Regions from separate parts of the Homo sapiens genome. Here region 1 is linked to region 2. A link means that fine-mapping ties the variant in region 2 to the expression of a gene that starts in the linked region. Tissue or cell type: sun-exposed skin. Region 2 holds a variant in brackets; the other region holds the start of a gene. All regions are shown on one strand. Distances are from middle to middle.

The links. PIP is the estimated chance that this variant, and not a neighbour inherited with it, causes the effect.
Region 1: it holds the start of GPR132, and the variant in region 2 is fine-mapped to the expression of GPR132 in sun-exposed skin (GTEx, PIP above 0.99). The same link has a PIP of 0.9 or more in unexposed skin.

The regions. Positions count from the first base shown.
Region 1 is chr14:105,061,216-105,068,765 of GRCh38, forward strand. It overlaps GPR132 (G protein-coupled receptor 132), which reads right to left and starts at 4,215. Exons shown (of 4, transcript NM_013345.4): 1 at 4,164-4,215. RefSeq lists enhancers at 2,434-2,493, 2,694-2,793, 2,904-3,043, 4,721-5,238, 4,914-5,083 and 4 more.
Region 2 is chr14:105,017,016-105,024,565 of GRCh38, forward strand. It overlaps CDCA4 (cell division cycle associated 4), which reads right to left and starts at 4,068. Exons shown (of 2, transcript NM_017955.4): 1 at 3,984-4,068. RefSeq lists enhancers at 2,133-2,793, 3,245-3,760, 4,275-4,788, 4,804-4,863 and silencers at 3,414-3,503, 3,514-4,403, 4,434-4,503. The variant G/T (reference allele first, on the strand shown) is at 4,465.

The sequences.
Region 1 (7,550 bases), 44 kb after region 2:
AACCAGGCTTGGGCGCCGGGGGAGCCCTGCACCAGCCCTTTGCTTATCAGAGCACATCCAGGCTTTGTCTGGCATTCCCTGCCGGACAGGCCCACAGCCTCAGGCAGCCCACCGGCCTCTTCCGAGGGCCTTCCTGGACCAGGGTCCGGGGTCCCGCCAGCACCTGCTCACCATCCTTTTGCCGCACCTGCTACTCCTACTGCCCCTGGGAGCCTCTGCCTCCCCTCGGGGTGAGTGAGCTCAGGATAGGGGCTCAGGGCCCTCTCTCCGGCCAGCCCAGTGGCCCCACCCGCCAGCTGCAGTGTCGCGGTCTGTCCTGGCCCGGGGCCAGGGCTGTTTCCTCCACAGAAAGGGGCGTGGGGTACAGCAGGTCACCCACATTTCAGGCCCTGCTCTTCCTCGGGGAGGGTGCAGTGGGGCCCGGGCCCTCTCTCAGCTTCCCCTGGGGCTGGGTCTTCAAGTGGAAGGACAAGGCCAGGCAGAGGCTTCCTGTGTTGTTCCACTCAGGAAGCAGGCACCACCCTCCTGGGGGGGGGGAGTCCCTCCTGGGCTGTGCATGGGGACCGTCCCTTCCTCTCATCGCCCCAGCTGTCTGGCCCACCAGTGGGGCTCCTCTCAGCTGTGGGGTGGGTGGGAGTGACTGAGCCCTGTGGGAAAGGTCCCCGGTGCAGACTTTCACTTCTGAAACAGCAGCAAGGTGCTCCCAGCCTGCCGGAGGCTTGGGTAGGGGATAGCCCACCATGCTCACAGCACCAGCAATGCCAGCCTGGCCTGGTGGACTCCAGGGGACTCTGTTCTTGATCTGCTCTGAGGGACTATGACAGGCAGAGGCCCCGCTATCACCATCCAACTCCAACTGGATTCAGGGCAGCGTGGCCAGACATGATGGCCATGGTGAGGTCCCTCGGATGACTCCAGCCACAAGACCACAGTGTGTGTGGGCCCAGGTCAGCCTGACACCCCCGTCCACCCATCCCTGAGCTCCAGCTGCATCTCCTGTCCCTGCTGGCCCTGGGCCCCTGCCTCCACCTCACATCAGCAAATGACCAAGCCCCTCATCACCCAGCCTCCATGCTGGGCAAATGTGTCCCTGTCCAGCTCCATCTTCAAGCCACACCTTGGCAGCCCACTGAGGCCAGCCCTCCACTGCTCCCTGGACTTCTCTCTCCTGTGTCCAACCCGCCTTTCTCCCACTCAGCGTGTCAGCTCCGAGGCTGCTCTGCCTCACACTTTCCGTGCTTCTTCCATGAACCCATGTTTTCTCTTTCTTTTTTTCTTTTGCCTTTTTTGCCTTTTCTTTCTTTTCTTTCTTTTCTTTTCTTTTCTTTTTTTTTTTTTTTTTTGAGATGGAGTCTTGCTCTGTTGCCCAGGCTGGAGTAAAGTGGCGCGATCTTGGCTCACTGCAACCTCTACCTCCCAGGTTCAAGCAATTCTCCTGCCTCAGCCTCCCGAGTGGTTGGGACTACAGGCACACCACCACGTCCAGCTACTTTTTTTGTATTTTTAGTAGAAACAGGGTTTTGCCATGTTGCCTAGGCAGGTCTTGAACTCCTGGGCTCCAATGATCCTCCTGCCTCAGCCTCCCAAAGTGCTGGGATTACGGTGTGAGCCACTACGCCCAGCTTTTTTTTCTTTAAATACTATTAAAATTGTTCTCTCTCTCTCTCCCTAACCCTCTCCCTCTCTCTCTTGCTTTATTTGTTTGTTTGTTTGTTTATTTATTTATTTGGAGACAGGGTCTTGCTCCCTCATCCAGGCTGGAGTACAGTGGCAAAATCTCTGCTCACTGAAACCTCCACCTCCCAGGCTCACATCATCCTCCCTTCCGAGTAACTGGGACTACAGGCACCTGCTGCCATGCCCAGTTAATTTTTGTACTTTTATTCTTAGAGACGAGGTTTCCCTATGTTACCCAGGCTGGTCTCGAGCTCCTGGGCTCAAGAAATCCGCCGGCCTCGGTCTCCGAAAGTGCTGGGAATACAGGCGTGAGCCACCATGCCCGGCCAATGAATCCATTTTCCAGATTAGAGAAGCACCACATGTTCCTGGGATGGACATTTCAATAACAGGATCTAGCATGACCTCACCCAGCCACTGTCCCTGGAGCTCTCTGGCCTGCAAGTTGCTGTGCTCCTCCAGTCTTTTAAAATCTATTTTGTAACTTTTTTTTTTTTTTTAGGCTGAGTTTCTCTCTCGTTGCCCAGGCTGGAGTGCAATAGCACGATCTTGGCTCACTGCAACCTCTGCCTCCCGGGTTCAAGTGATTCTCCTGCCTCAGCCTCTGAAGTAGCTGGGATTAGCAGGCGCCTGCCACCATGCCCGGCTAATTTTTTGTATTTTTAGTAGAGAAGGGGTTTCGCCATATTGGTCAGGCTGGTCTTGAACTCCTGACCTCAGGTGATCCGCCCGCCTCGGCCTCCTAAAGTGCTGGGATTACAGGTGTGAGCCACCACGCCCAGCCTGTTTTGTAACTTATGATGGAACTTTTCAGACAGACACAAAAGGACAGAGAAGGAGCCCTGGCCCCTGCCATGTGCAGGGAGCAGTTCCTCATTCCAGCCCATTTGTCAAAAACAGCTCCTCAGGCTGCTGAGGTCTGTCTTGTGGACTATCTGTAATTTCTTTCTTTCTTTTTTTTTTTGAGACAGAGTTTCGCTCTCGTTGCCCAGGCTGGAGTGCAATGGCACGATCTCGGCTCACCACAACCTCCACCTCCTGGGTTCAAGTGAGTCTCCTGCCTCAGCCTCCCAAGTAAATGGGATTACAGGCGTGTGCCACCACGCCCGGCTAATTTTGTATTTTTAGTAGAGACAGGGTTTCACCATATTGGTTACGCTGGTCTCGAACTCCTGACCTCAGGTGATCCACCTGCCTTGGCCTCCCAAAGTGCTGGGATTACAGGCGTAAGCCACCGCACCTGGCTGGATTGCCTGTAATTTCTAAGCTGTTTCACGGTTGCTGGCCATTCCTAGCCATTTCCGTCTTTTACTCCCACCTGCTTTGGCACCAGGCAAACCTATGACCTCTTTTCTGCCGTCACGTTTGAGACAAACCCTAGGGAGGGAAATGTGGAGTCACCAGCTCCAACCTCCCTGCTCCACCACACCCATCCAAAGCCCATTGTCAACTTTCTTATTTTTCCCAATTTGATAGTGTTGCCCAGGCTAGAGTGCAATGGCGCGATCTCGGCTCACTGCAAGCTCCGCCTCTCAGGTTCAAGCGATTCTCCTGCCTCGGCCTCCCAAGTAGCTGGGATTACAGACGTGTGCCAACACGCCCGGCTAATTTTTGTATTTTTAGTAGAGACAGGGTATCACCATGTTGGTCAGGCTGGTCTCAAACTCCTGACCTCAAGTGATCCGCCCACCTCGGCCTCCCAAAGTGCTGGGATTACAGGCATGAACCACCGTGCCCAGCCCCTATCCTCATCTTCTTCCAGGAGCCTCTGCTCTCCCACCTCGGCCTGGCCAATCTCCTGAAATATCATTTTGTGCTCAGCCCAACTGGCCAGTCTTCAGTGGTCAGTCCCAGTCCCTTGCAGTGGTACAGACCCACGTCATGCACTTGACAGAAGGTATTGGGCCCCCCGCCCCGCTGTGCCTGGTGCGCCGAACGCCACTCCAAAGGCCGGTGACCTGCCCAGCTCCAGGATCTTGTCACGTGACTGGGCCAACTGCCACTCACCGCAGCACAGCCCCCACTGCCCTGCTTTTCCCTCTGTGTAACCCCACAAGCAGCACAGGCCCCACAGAGAGAAGCCCAGCCCTTCAGTGCCCCCCGACCAATCACGGAAGCAAGTGGCCAAGGAGAGATTCCAGGGACAAAGTCCAGCCCCCTGACTCACCCCCATCTGGACCAGTAGCCAGGGAAGCCTTTTCCAGAAGAAAGTCTCCAGGAAGGTGGCGGTGACAAAGATACAATGGAAACTGTTGTCCCTCTCCCCCAAATCCTCCGGCCCCATCACATCTGTGGTCACTGGGGGTCCTGGGTTCTCTCGGGAGGGACCCCAGATTAAGAACCCTCAACAAAGCCTCCATCTTTACCAACAAATCACCTTTGCCTTCAGATCCCCCTCTGCCCGCCTCCAGCTCCCAGCCCCCAGCCCCATCCCAGAGCCTGGCCCCCCAGGCCCACTCCCCAGCACGCAGAGCCCAGCGACTTACCCAGGGCCCCGCCTGCGTGGCTAGCCTCGCACCCCTCCCTGCAGTCCTAGCTGAGGTTTCAGGAAGTAGCAGGGGTCTAATTATGTTCTGTCTAGAACTCCCCTAACCACAAACAGGGCTGAGCTAGGGGTTAGCCAACCGGGCTGGGGTATCTTACTGGTGATGACAGCATGGCCTCGTCACCTTCCTGAGGGAGGGAGTGGCAGGAAACCCCAGTCTTACCTCTTTTAGCAATAGCAGCACTCAGAGCCAGGCTCCACTCACTCAGGAGCTCCCAGGCAGGTGCTGGGGCCTGGCGCGGCACAGCGGCTGTCCGTGTGTCCCCAGACAGGCAAGGCAGGACAGGGGTCCTGGAAAGGCTGCAGGGAGGGGTCCTGGAAAGACAAAATCCAGCTCCTCTGCAGCTCAGGCCTGGTGTTGCCCACTCTCGGGCCAGGCAAGCACGGAGCAGGGTGACTTCCCAGAGGCTGTGTCCTCCCAGGAGTCCCTGTCCGGGGTGCCAGGAGTAGAGAGGCTGAGTGCGCCCACTGCAGCCCCGGGACCAGGATGGCACCTGCATGTCCTGGAAGGCTCGGCACAGCCACTGCACACAAGCACCCTCCCCTCCCCGCCTCCCTCTTCCTACATGGGGCAGGGCCGTGTGGGAAGAACAGCCTACTGCACACTCCACATTCCTCCCCCAGCCCTACCTCAACCCCTCCTGCATCCAGAACCAAGCCTGGCCTGGCCCAGGAGCCCTGCGGGTGGGCTTCTCTGTGAGGGGCCCTGTGGGAACTGGAGGGTGGGCAGGCAGGGTTGCCTGGGACAGTCCCCCTCACTGTGGGGCTTCCGGCCATGATGGGCCCAGTTTCCTTGGACAAAGCCAGCTGGCTGTGGACAGCACCTACAACTCCACTCACCTCCAGGCTGCTTCTGAGTTTCAGGGCACAGACCCACCCTGGTGCCCACTCCCGAGCCTGCCAAGCTCCATCCAAGCCAGGCTCTTTCAGCAGTGGGGACAGGGCCGGGCTGAGGGAAGGAGCTGGGGACCACAAATGTCTCCAAGCGACACTGCCCAGCACCGCAGCAGGGACGGTCACTGAGCGAAGAAGCCGCCATCCTGGGTGGGTACACCCACGGCCAGGAGAGGCCGGTGGAGGCCGAGCCCCCAGTCTACACTTTCCCCCAGACACGTGGATCACAGCTGCCCCCTGCTGCAGGGCCGCATGGCTGGAGGCTGCCTCCGAACAGCGATTTCAGAGGGTTTTGTGTGGGTGGCAGTGGAGTCCCTGGAAAGCTGGGCTTTCCCATTGCCCTGGCGGGGAGGCGCAGGTCTCAGGGCAGGGCCTACCTTGGCTTTCCAGAAACACTTGCCCAGGGGACAGTGATCCTCTAGGGGATCTGGTGCAAACACACGCCTCCACAGGCCACTGCTCATGGGGTCACTGGCCTCCCGGGTCTTTGGGCCAGGGCAGCCCCACCCTCGGAGCAGCAATAGACGAAGCCCACATCAGGCCAGTGGGGGTGATGGCCAGGGACAGCTGTGGGTTCCTGTCGCTGGCCCCAGCAGCCTCCTAGGACCTGCCCCGTCCTGCGCCCCACTGGGTGGTCTGTCACGTTCACCAGGCCTCCTCTGCGCCCCCGGTGAGGGGTCCAGGAGTGACATGCGGACCCGGCTCAGGCCATTGTCACCCTCCATGCCTTCTGGCCTTTGCCAGGCAGTCCGGGAATAGCCGATTCAAGTGAGGTCAGTTGAATCCTCTCTTTGGGTCCTTCACTGGGGTCTGGGAAAGGAAAGTTGGGTCCCTTGGGTGGCAGGAGCTGTGGGTATGAACTGGGGGGTTGGCAGCCGTGTACCGGCTCCCCTGCCCCTGCCAGGTGGAGAAGCCAGGCTGGGGTGGAGGGCAGGCAGGAGCCTGGGAGTCCAAACACTGACAGCCTGGGGGTGTGGACTGGCCCTGCCTATTCCCACCGGGCCTTCGGGACCAGTGGAGGCTGCCCCGGGCTGTGCGGCACCTGGGGTGTTGTCTCTGAGAAGCCCGTCAGGGAGATGGCTCTCCCTGCTCTGACCCCAGCAAAGCGATTCATACCCAGAGAATCCCTCACCAACAGGAGAGCAGGTTTCAGACAGGAAGTCACCCGAACATCCCACGGCTGAGTCACGTGCCAGAACAGCTCCCTGCGGCCCAGACACAGCAGTGGTGAGGTCCAAGCTGCAGACATGGGGTACAACTTCACATCCCGATGTGTGCACCAGAAACCGCCCTGCTGTCCGGTGGGTTCACCAGCCGTTCTCCTGGCCTGTCTGGACCCTGCAGAAGCCAAAGCTGGTGATTGCTTGCTAATTTGTCCAGTCAGTCTGGGAAGGCCTGGGCCCAGGGGGAGACAAGGCCAGGAATAAGGGAAGGGAGGGTCAGAGCAAGAAATGTCCAGGGGGCAAAGTTGGAAGGAGCTGGAAAGATGGGACGAGGGACCCAAAGAGCCCCTGTGCATGGGGCCAGTGTGGTCTGCTCTACCTCCCGGGCAGACACAGGGCCTTGCTCTTGTCTGGCCCTAAAAAACCCTGAATGGCCAGCTCTGGCCTTCCCCACCTGGTGCATCTGGAGCAGAAGTTCCCAAGGGCTACCTTGCATGTGGGGTGCGGCTGTCCCCCAAGCCAGGTGTGACCACGCTGTGGGGGCTTGTGGGGCTGCTCCTCTGGTGACGGCGGCAGGGTTGGGTCGGGGGCCTTTGCTCTATAACTGTAGAGAGACAGTGGCCGGAAGGGTAGGCTTTGAGAGTGGGGGCCCCAGGCCTCCCAGCCTCCCAGGAGGACAGGTGTGGCGGGCAGATGCCCAGATCCCTGTCGGTCCCGTCGCCCAGGCTGGAGTACAATGGTGCAATCTCGGCTCATGCAACCTCCGCCTGCCTGGTTCAAGTGATTCTCCTGCCTCAGCCTCCCAAGTAGCTGGGATTACAGGTGTGTGCCACCACACCCAGTTAATTTTTTGTATCTTTTAATAGAGATAGGGTTTCATTATGTTGGCCAGGCTGGTCTCGAACTCCTGACCTCATGATCTGCCTGCCTCAGCCTCCAAAAGTGCTGGGATTACAGGCGTGAGCCACCACGCCTGGCTTTTTTTTTTTTTTTTTTCGAGACGGAGTTTTGCTCTTGTTGCCCAGGCTGGAGTGCAATGGCAGGAACTTGGCTCACCGCAACCTCCACCTCCCAGGTTCAAGCGATTCTCCCGCCTTAGCCTCTTGAGTCGCTGGGATTACAGGCATGTGCCACCACGCCTGACTAATTTTGTATTATTAGTAGAGACAGGGTTTTGCCATGTTGGTCAGGCTGGTCTCGAACTCCCGACCTCAGGTGATCCTCTCACCTTGGCCTCCCAAAGTGCTGGGATTACAGGTGTGTGCCACTGC
Region 2 (7,550 bases):
AAAGAAATAATCGTTTTATAAAATTTAGGAGTGTTAAATGCACAGGCAATGAGATCTATCACACCGAAAAGAAATTCAGAGAACAGGGGGAACCTTTTTTCTGTCTATTCAAGGACAGGACCAGCAGGTGTGAGCCTCCAGAGAGGCTCCTGGGGAGGTGGGGGGCGGTCCTTGGCCTAGTTTCATCACTCTCAGTTGTAAGCATTCTTTTTTTTTTTAGATGGAGTCTCACTGTCGCCCAGGCTGGAGTGCAGTGGTGCAATCTCGGCTCACTGCAACCTCCACCTCCTAGGTTCAAGCGATTCTCCTGCCTCATCTTCCCTCAACTTCCCGAGTAGCTGGGATTATAGGCGTGCACCACCACGCCCAGCTAGTTTTTTGTATTTTTAATAGAGCCGGGGTTTCGCCATGTTGGCCAGGCTGGTCTCGAACTCCTGACATCAAGTGATTTGCCCACCTCGGCCTCCCAAAGTGCTAGGATTACAGGAGTGAGCCATCACACCCAGCCACAAGCATTCTTTTAGGACTTAAACAGCCCGGGCACAGTGGCTCATGCCTGTAATCCCAGCACTTTGGGAGGCTGAGGCAGGCGGATCACCAGGTCAGGAGATTGAGACCATCCTGGCCAACACGATGAAACCCCATCTCTACTAAAAATACAAAAGATTAGTCAGGTGTGGTGGCACGTGCCTGTAGTCCCAGCTACTCGGGAGGCTGAGGCAGGAGAATTGCTTGAACCTGGAAGGCGGAGGTTGCAGTGAGCAGAGATTGCACCACTGCACTACAGCCTGAACAACAGAGCGAGACTCCGTCTCAAAAAAAAAACACACACACACAAAAAAAACACTTAAAACAAGTTGAATGTATACGATCTGGTGTATTCTGACAAAGGAATGCAACTCAGCAACATACCTCAATGATTTATGCAACACGGATAAATTTCAAAACATTATGCTGAATAAAAGCAGCAAGACACACACAAAAATATGTACCGTAGGATTCTATTGATCTGAACCTTCAGGACAGGCAAAGCTAATCTAAGTTGTGAAAACACAGAAGGGTAGCCACCATCAGGGTGGGAAATGCTACAAGGGGCCAGAAAGAATCCTCCAGGATGATGGAGATTCTCTCTCGCCCCTTGTAGGACTTGTGTAACCCAGGGACCTGCATAGATGTGCCTGGGTTACACAAGTTCTACAAGGGACGAGAGATAATCCCCATCATCCTCCACTGCATCTCATCCCATGCACAGATCCCATTCTGGTACCAGGAGAATATCCCTGTTCAGTCACTTCAAATCATTCCTCTCCAATGTTCCAAATCTCCAGCAGCTGTTAATTCTGTGTTGTACCCAATATTTTAAAATGCTGACAAGTTTATTACTATTAATACAAAAAAGAGTAAAGCTCACAGGTGCTTTTTACAGTCACGTGACCCCAAAGAGCTGTCACCCAGAACATGTGTTCAGGAGTGAAGAGGATAAGGTTGGGCCCGGAGAAGCTGGCCTGTGAGGATCACCCTGAATTGGGTTATATCTGTGTTTGGGACAAAGTCAGCAAGAGCATGGTCTTAACCAGCCCCGAGGGATGCCTGGGCTGGGCCCAGCTCCCTGAGGGCCTCCTGTGTGACTTCTGCCTGAGGCTGCTTAACTCCTTCTAATATGGAATGAGAAAGGGCCCTATACCATACCGGTGGGGCTGTGGAGCCTAGCTCCCTGCTCAATTTTTTTTTTTTTTTTTAAGACAGAGTCTCATTCTGTCCCCCAGGCTGGAGTGCAGTGATGCAATCTCAGCTCACTGCAACCTCCACCTCCCAGGTTCAAGCGATTCTCCTACCTCAGCCTCCCGAGTAGCTAGGACTACAGGCACGCGCCACCACACCCGGCTAATTTTTGTATTTTTTGTAGAGACGGGGTTTCACCATGTTGGCCAGGCTGATCTCGAACTCCTGAACTCAGGCAATCCGCCCATCTCGGCCTCCCAAAGTGCTGGATTACAGGCGTGAGCCACCATGCCTGGCCCCCTGCTCAGTTTTGAAGCTCTTTCTACACATCTAGTTAAATGCCTAAAATCCCACCAACTCCACAGGTTGTTACCGGGACAGCCAAGCCCTCAGTCAACTCCCAGCACTGCCCTCAGGCTTCTAAACCAAGCACCGACCAGACAGAGAAAAACGAAGAGGGCCAGACGGACTGAGGACATGTCCGACATGGCAGGTGGAACAGCCAACAGGCCACTAGGGACAGAGCAACCTAGGCCCACCGAGGCAGAGGCCAGCAGGGAGCAGCCCCGCAGTGCTGCTCAGGCAAGCAGAGTACAGCTCGGGGACTGGTCCTTCACTACAGCAGCAGTGGCCACACCTTCGTGGCTGAGCAATACCACGAGGCTGGCTGAAAACGCAGATTCCCAGATTCTGATCAGTAGGGCTGGGACGGTTGGGGACAGACTCAACTCTGACCTAACCTGTCACCTTCACAGCTGGACTTGCAGCCACTTCAAAGTTTCGGGTTTTTAAGCAAATCATCAACAATTTCCATTCCTCACACATCAGATAAGCTTTGAAATACTTTATCGGAAAAACAGGGAGAAGAGGAGCAAGGTCTGCAGTCTTGAGTACTGAGTGGGAGCTCCACCTTCCACTACAAGTCTCCTGGAGGCTGTTCATGAACAATTACTGTTATGTTAATTTCAGGTATTTGGTTTTTTTTGTTTTTTGAGACGGAGTCTCGCTCTGTCGCCCAGGCTGGAGTGCAATGGCACGATCTCGGCTGAGACCTCTGCCTTTCTGGTTCAAGCGATTCTCCTGCCTCAGCCTCCCACATAGCTAGGATTATGATTACAGGCATGCGCCATCACGCCCAGCTAATTTTTGTATTTTTAGTACAGACGGGGTTTCACCACGTTGGCCAGCTAGTCTCGAACTCGGGACCTCAGGAGATCCACCCGCCTAGGCCTCCTCTCAAAGTGCTGGGAGGTGTGAGCTACCGCGCCCAGCCAATTGCAGGTACTTTTGTTACTTGGAACGAAACACACTCCTTCTTTTCCCTGAAAACATGTTCCAGTGGCAAGTTGAGGGAAACTTCCTAGCCCCTTTTCCAAGATACAGCCTACTACTCTTCCTAGAAAAGGGGTGTAACTCACTTTGTATTCTGGATTTCCACCCTAATTATAAAACACGGTGACACTTGAAAATAGAGTGGTTGTACGTAGAAAGTTGATAAAACGTAAGTTTTGTGAACAGGCAATGTTTTTCTGTGGCTCGCTTTGAGAGAACGGTTATCTGGGTCCCGCCGTCCCGTGCGTCCCACACGAAGGCCACAGGAGAAGCGAGGCAGCGGAGACCCTCTATTCCAGCAAGCTGTCGGAGCCTTTGCCACGACGATCCTGTTTGCGGGGCGAGAAGCGTCTGAAGACGCGGAGGGAGGCTTGCGTCTGACTTCTGCAAGTGTCTCGGGGACTTTCCCTAGTCCCACCTCGCACCGCCGGAGGAGCCCAGGGAAGACGGCGCTGGCCGACCCGCCCGGGGTCTGGGCCTCCTCCCACATCCGCGGCCCTCTCCGCGGCCGGGCTCCGACAGAGGGGGCTGCGGCGCGCCTGGCGTTCCCTCCGCTGCAACTAGAGCCGAGGTACGGGAAACGCCGCTGCGTACCCCAGCCGGGCCCTCGTGAAGCGGCTCCCGCGTGGGGCCGCCCGCAGGCCTCGGCAAAGCCCCAGCTCCGCGCTCCGCAAGGAACGCAGACGGCGGCCCGGGCCCCTCTGTTCCCCGGGCCCCCTCAGCAGCGGCCACCCCGCGGGGGAACCAGCGCCCAGGAGGGCGGCGAGGGCGCCGCGGCAGCCCCAGCGGTGGTCCCGGGCGCCGCCTCCGCCCCGGACCCAGCGCCAGGAGCCACAGACTCCGCGCACCGCCCCCAGGCTCCTCCGCGCCCTGCAGCACAAAAGTGCACGCCGCCGTAGACGCCCTAGCGGTCCGCCGGGCCCGCTCACCTGACCCGCGAGGCCGCCCGCCGGGTCCTCTGCTCAGCCACCGCCACCGCCGCTGCCGCCAGCTTCCCGCCGCTGAGGAAGGAGCGCCCGACGGCGCGGGGCGGGGCGAGCGACCGCCACTCGGCGTCCACAAAGGGTCGACGCTGCGCTCTCCGCGCGCTACGCCCGCTGATTGGCCACTCGCGGGCCGGGGGCGGGGCCTCTTGTTCAAACCCACGCGGGCGGGGCATCTGTGGCGCGTCTTCCCGCGCTGCGGCGACGGCCGTTGGGGCTCGCGCGCGCCCTCGGTTGCCCCGCCCCCGCCCCTGCGCCCGGCCCCGCCACGCCCACGCCCCGCCGGCTCCCAGGTCTCCCCGCGCCCAGTCCGGCCCCGCCCCGCCAGCTCCCAGGTCTCCGCGCGTCTGGCCCTGAACTGAACGCGCCTGCGCCTGGGGCCCACGTGGGGCCCTCGGGCGGGCGTGGCGGGGCAAACAGAGGTTTG[G/T]ACTCTCTCGCTTCTGCCTGGCTCAACTTCTCCGCCGAGGCATCCGTGCCGGGGTCGGGAGGAGCCGGGCACGGCAATTCCCGGGCGGTCTGGGCTCCGAGGTCTATCCAAGCCTCTCCAGAGACCGGGGTTATCTCCAAAGGCTTCCTAGGTTTACACGTAAGAAATGTAACGTGAAAGTTCAAAGCAGGGGACACGTGTTTTAAATCTCTTAGTGGAAAAGGTTTTAAATAGGATGCGAGAACCTGCAATCATTGACTTAAGTAATACCCTGAGCGCCTGCAGCAGGCCCGGCAGGCGTGGCTGCAGCTGAGAGCCAAGTGCTGGAAGTTGGGGGGGAATCCTCAGATCAATCCGCAGGTGCGGATGCGCCAAGGTCGGTGGTAAATGCTGAAATGCTGTCGGGAAACCTGGGAGTGACGTGGGGGCGCTGCTCACATAGGTCTCTAGGATAAGGAGCGTCTTAAAGCACCAAAAGGAAGAGTGGACGAGAATTCAGGAGAGGAATGGCTGGGGCAAAGCCCGAGGCAGGGGCAGGAGGCAGGAGCACGTCTCAGTGCAGTGAGAAAGAACCCTGTGATCTCGTGGGAAAGTTTTAAGTGTGAGGGGTGGAGGGACTTTTGGGCTATTCTGGGAGTGGGATGGAGACTACTGGCATGGTCAGCAGAGAAGGAACTGGAATCTGAATTGTGCTTGAAAAGAATCACTGTTCTTATTTAAAAAAAAAAAAAAGGGGGTCTCTTTCGCCCAGGCTGGACAACAGTGGCGTGATTATGGCTCACTGTATCCTCGAACTCTTGTGCTCGAGTGATTCTCACGCCTCAGCCTCCCAAGTAGCTGGGACTACAGAAGTGTGCCACTACACCAAGCTAACTTTTTTTTTTTTTTTGGTAATTTTGTAGAGACAGGGTATTGTCTTGTTACACAGGCTGGTCTCCAACTCCTGGCCTTAAGTGATCCTCCTACCTTGGCCTCCCAAAGTTCTGGGATTACAGGCATGAGGCACCACAACCACCAAGAATCACTGTTGGTAATAGATTTGGAGGAGGTGGCAGGAAGGCTGGAAGTAGAAAATCCCATTAGGTTACTGCCCAGGTAAAAGAAAATGGGACTTGATAAAGGTGACTACCTGAGAATTTAAAGTTTATGCATGTCAAAGTGAAAAGACAAATGGGGAAAAAAGTTTTTCCTGGCTGTATCCCACATAAAGGTTAAATTCCTTAATATACAGATATTCTGCAAATGCAAATGAAATCTAGATCACCAAAGAAAAGTGGTTTGGAAATAGTGGCACCCACCTGTAATCCCAGCTACTCAGGAGGCTGGGGTGAGAGAATCCCTTGAGCCCAGGAGTTGGAGGCTGCAGTGAACTATGATTGCACCACTGCACTCCAGCCTGGGCAGCAGAGTGAGACCCCATCTCTTAAAAAAAGAAAAGAAAAGTGGGCGTAGAATATAAACACAGTTCAGAGCAAAGAAAATACAAATGCTCCTATACAGGCGAATAGATGCTCAGCCCCAATCAGAACAAGAGCAGTGGAAATTAAAGCTATGCTGGAGTGCTGTTTGCCACGGGTCAAATTGGCAAAGATCTAAAATAATGTCTGGAGTAAGATAATATCTTCCAGAGCATATTAGTCTATTCTCATGCTGCTAATAAAGACATACCCGAGACTGGGTAATTTATAAAGAAAAAGAGGTTTAATGGACTCGCAATCATGGCAGGAGACAAAGGAAAAGCGAAGGGACGTCTTACACGGCGGCAGGCAAGAGAGCGTGTGCAGGGAGCTCCCCTTTATAAAACCGTCAGATCTCAGGAAATGTATTCACTATCCGGAGAACAGAACAGGAAAGCCTGCCCCATGATTCAGTTACCTCCTGCCGGGTCCCTCCCACGACATGGGAATTATAGGAGCTACAATTCAAGATGAGATTTGGTGTGATATTTTGACATGTATATACAAAGTATAATGATCCATCAAGGTAGTTAGCATATCCATCACCTCAAACATCATTTCTTTTGTGTTGGGAACATTCAAAATCCTCTCCTCTACCTATTAGAAAATATGCAGTAAGTTACTGTTAACTGTAGTCATAAAATATTAACAGGCTTGCTAGGACATAGGACCAGAAAAAACATAGAAGTCTATGGTTACACCAAGATTGGAGTCATATTTTTCAGTAACTAATGTATTCAGGAAAATTGATGACAAGGAGAACTAGAATCCGTTAAAAAAAAGACTCAAATTGAAGAAAGAGCATCAGTCTTACACAGAGTCTTCCAAATGATAAAGGGGAACTCTTCTTACCAATTTGTTCTACAGGGCTAACAAATTTGATACTAAAACTCGAAAGGGACATGATGGGAGAAAACACACATGGTATTCTCTCTCATGAACATTGTTTAAAATTCCAAACCACATATTAGCAAATCAGATCCAATGATAATGTAAAAAAGGTAACTCATCACAACCAAGTTGGGTGTACTCCAGGAACTGGAGTACAGTTGATTTCACATTGCAAGGTCAACATGATTCATGACAATAGAATGAAGGAGAAAAAAAGTATGAAAATCTCAGTGTAGAAGCATCTAGTAAAATTCAACACCCCTTCATGGTATAATCTTTAGCAAACTAAATATACAAGTACAAAGTTAGGGACAGCCCCAAGACCACCCTCAAGTTTGAAATTCATTAGAAGGACTCAGAGAATTCCCTAGAAGCTATTGTACTCGTGGTTATGGTTCATTACCATGAAAAGGCTCATTAAAATTAACCAAGAGAAGAGGTGCATGGGGCAGCGGCCAGGAGAGGCCATGCGGAGACTCCAGTTGTTCTCTTAGTGGAGTCATAGTGGTATTGCTGGTGAAAATGTGTCACTGGGCCTGAGTCCAGAGTTCATTTACTTCCCAAATGAATATATACATTTATTCTATTGCCAGGCAAAATCCCAGGATATTTTTGAAACCTCACAAAATGCTATTAAAAATCTAGAGAAATGGCCGGGCACAGTGGCTCATGCCTGTAATCCCAGCACTTTGGGAGGCTGAGGTGGGCGGGTTACCTGAGTTCAGGAGTTCGAGACCA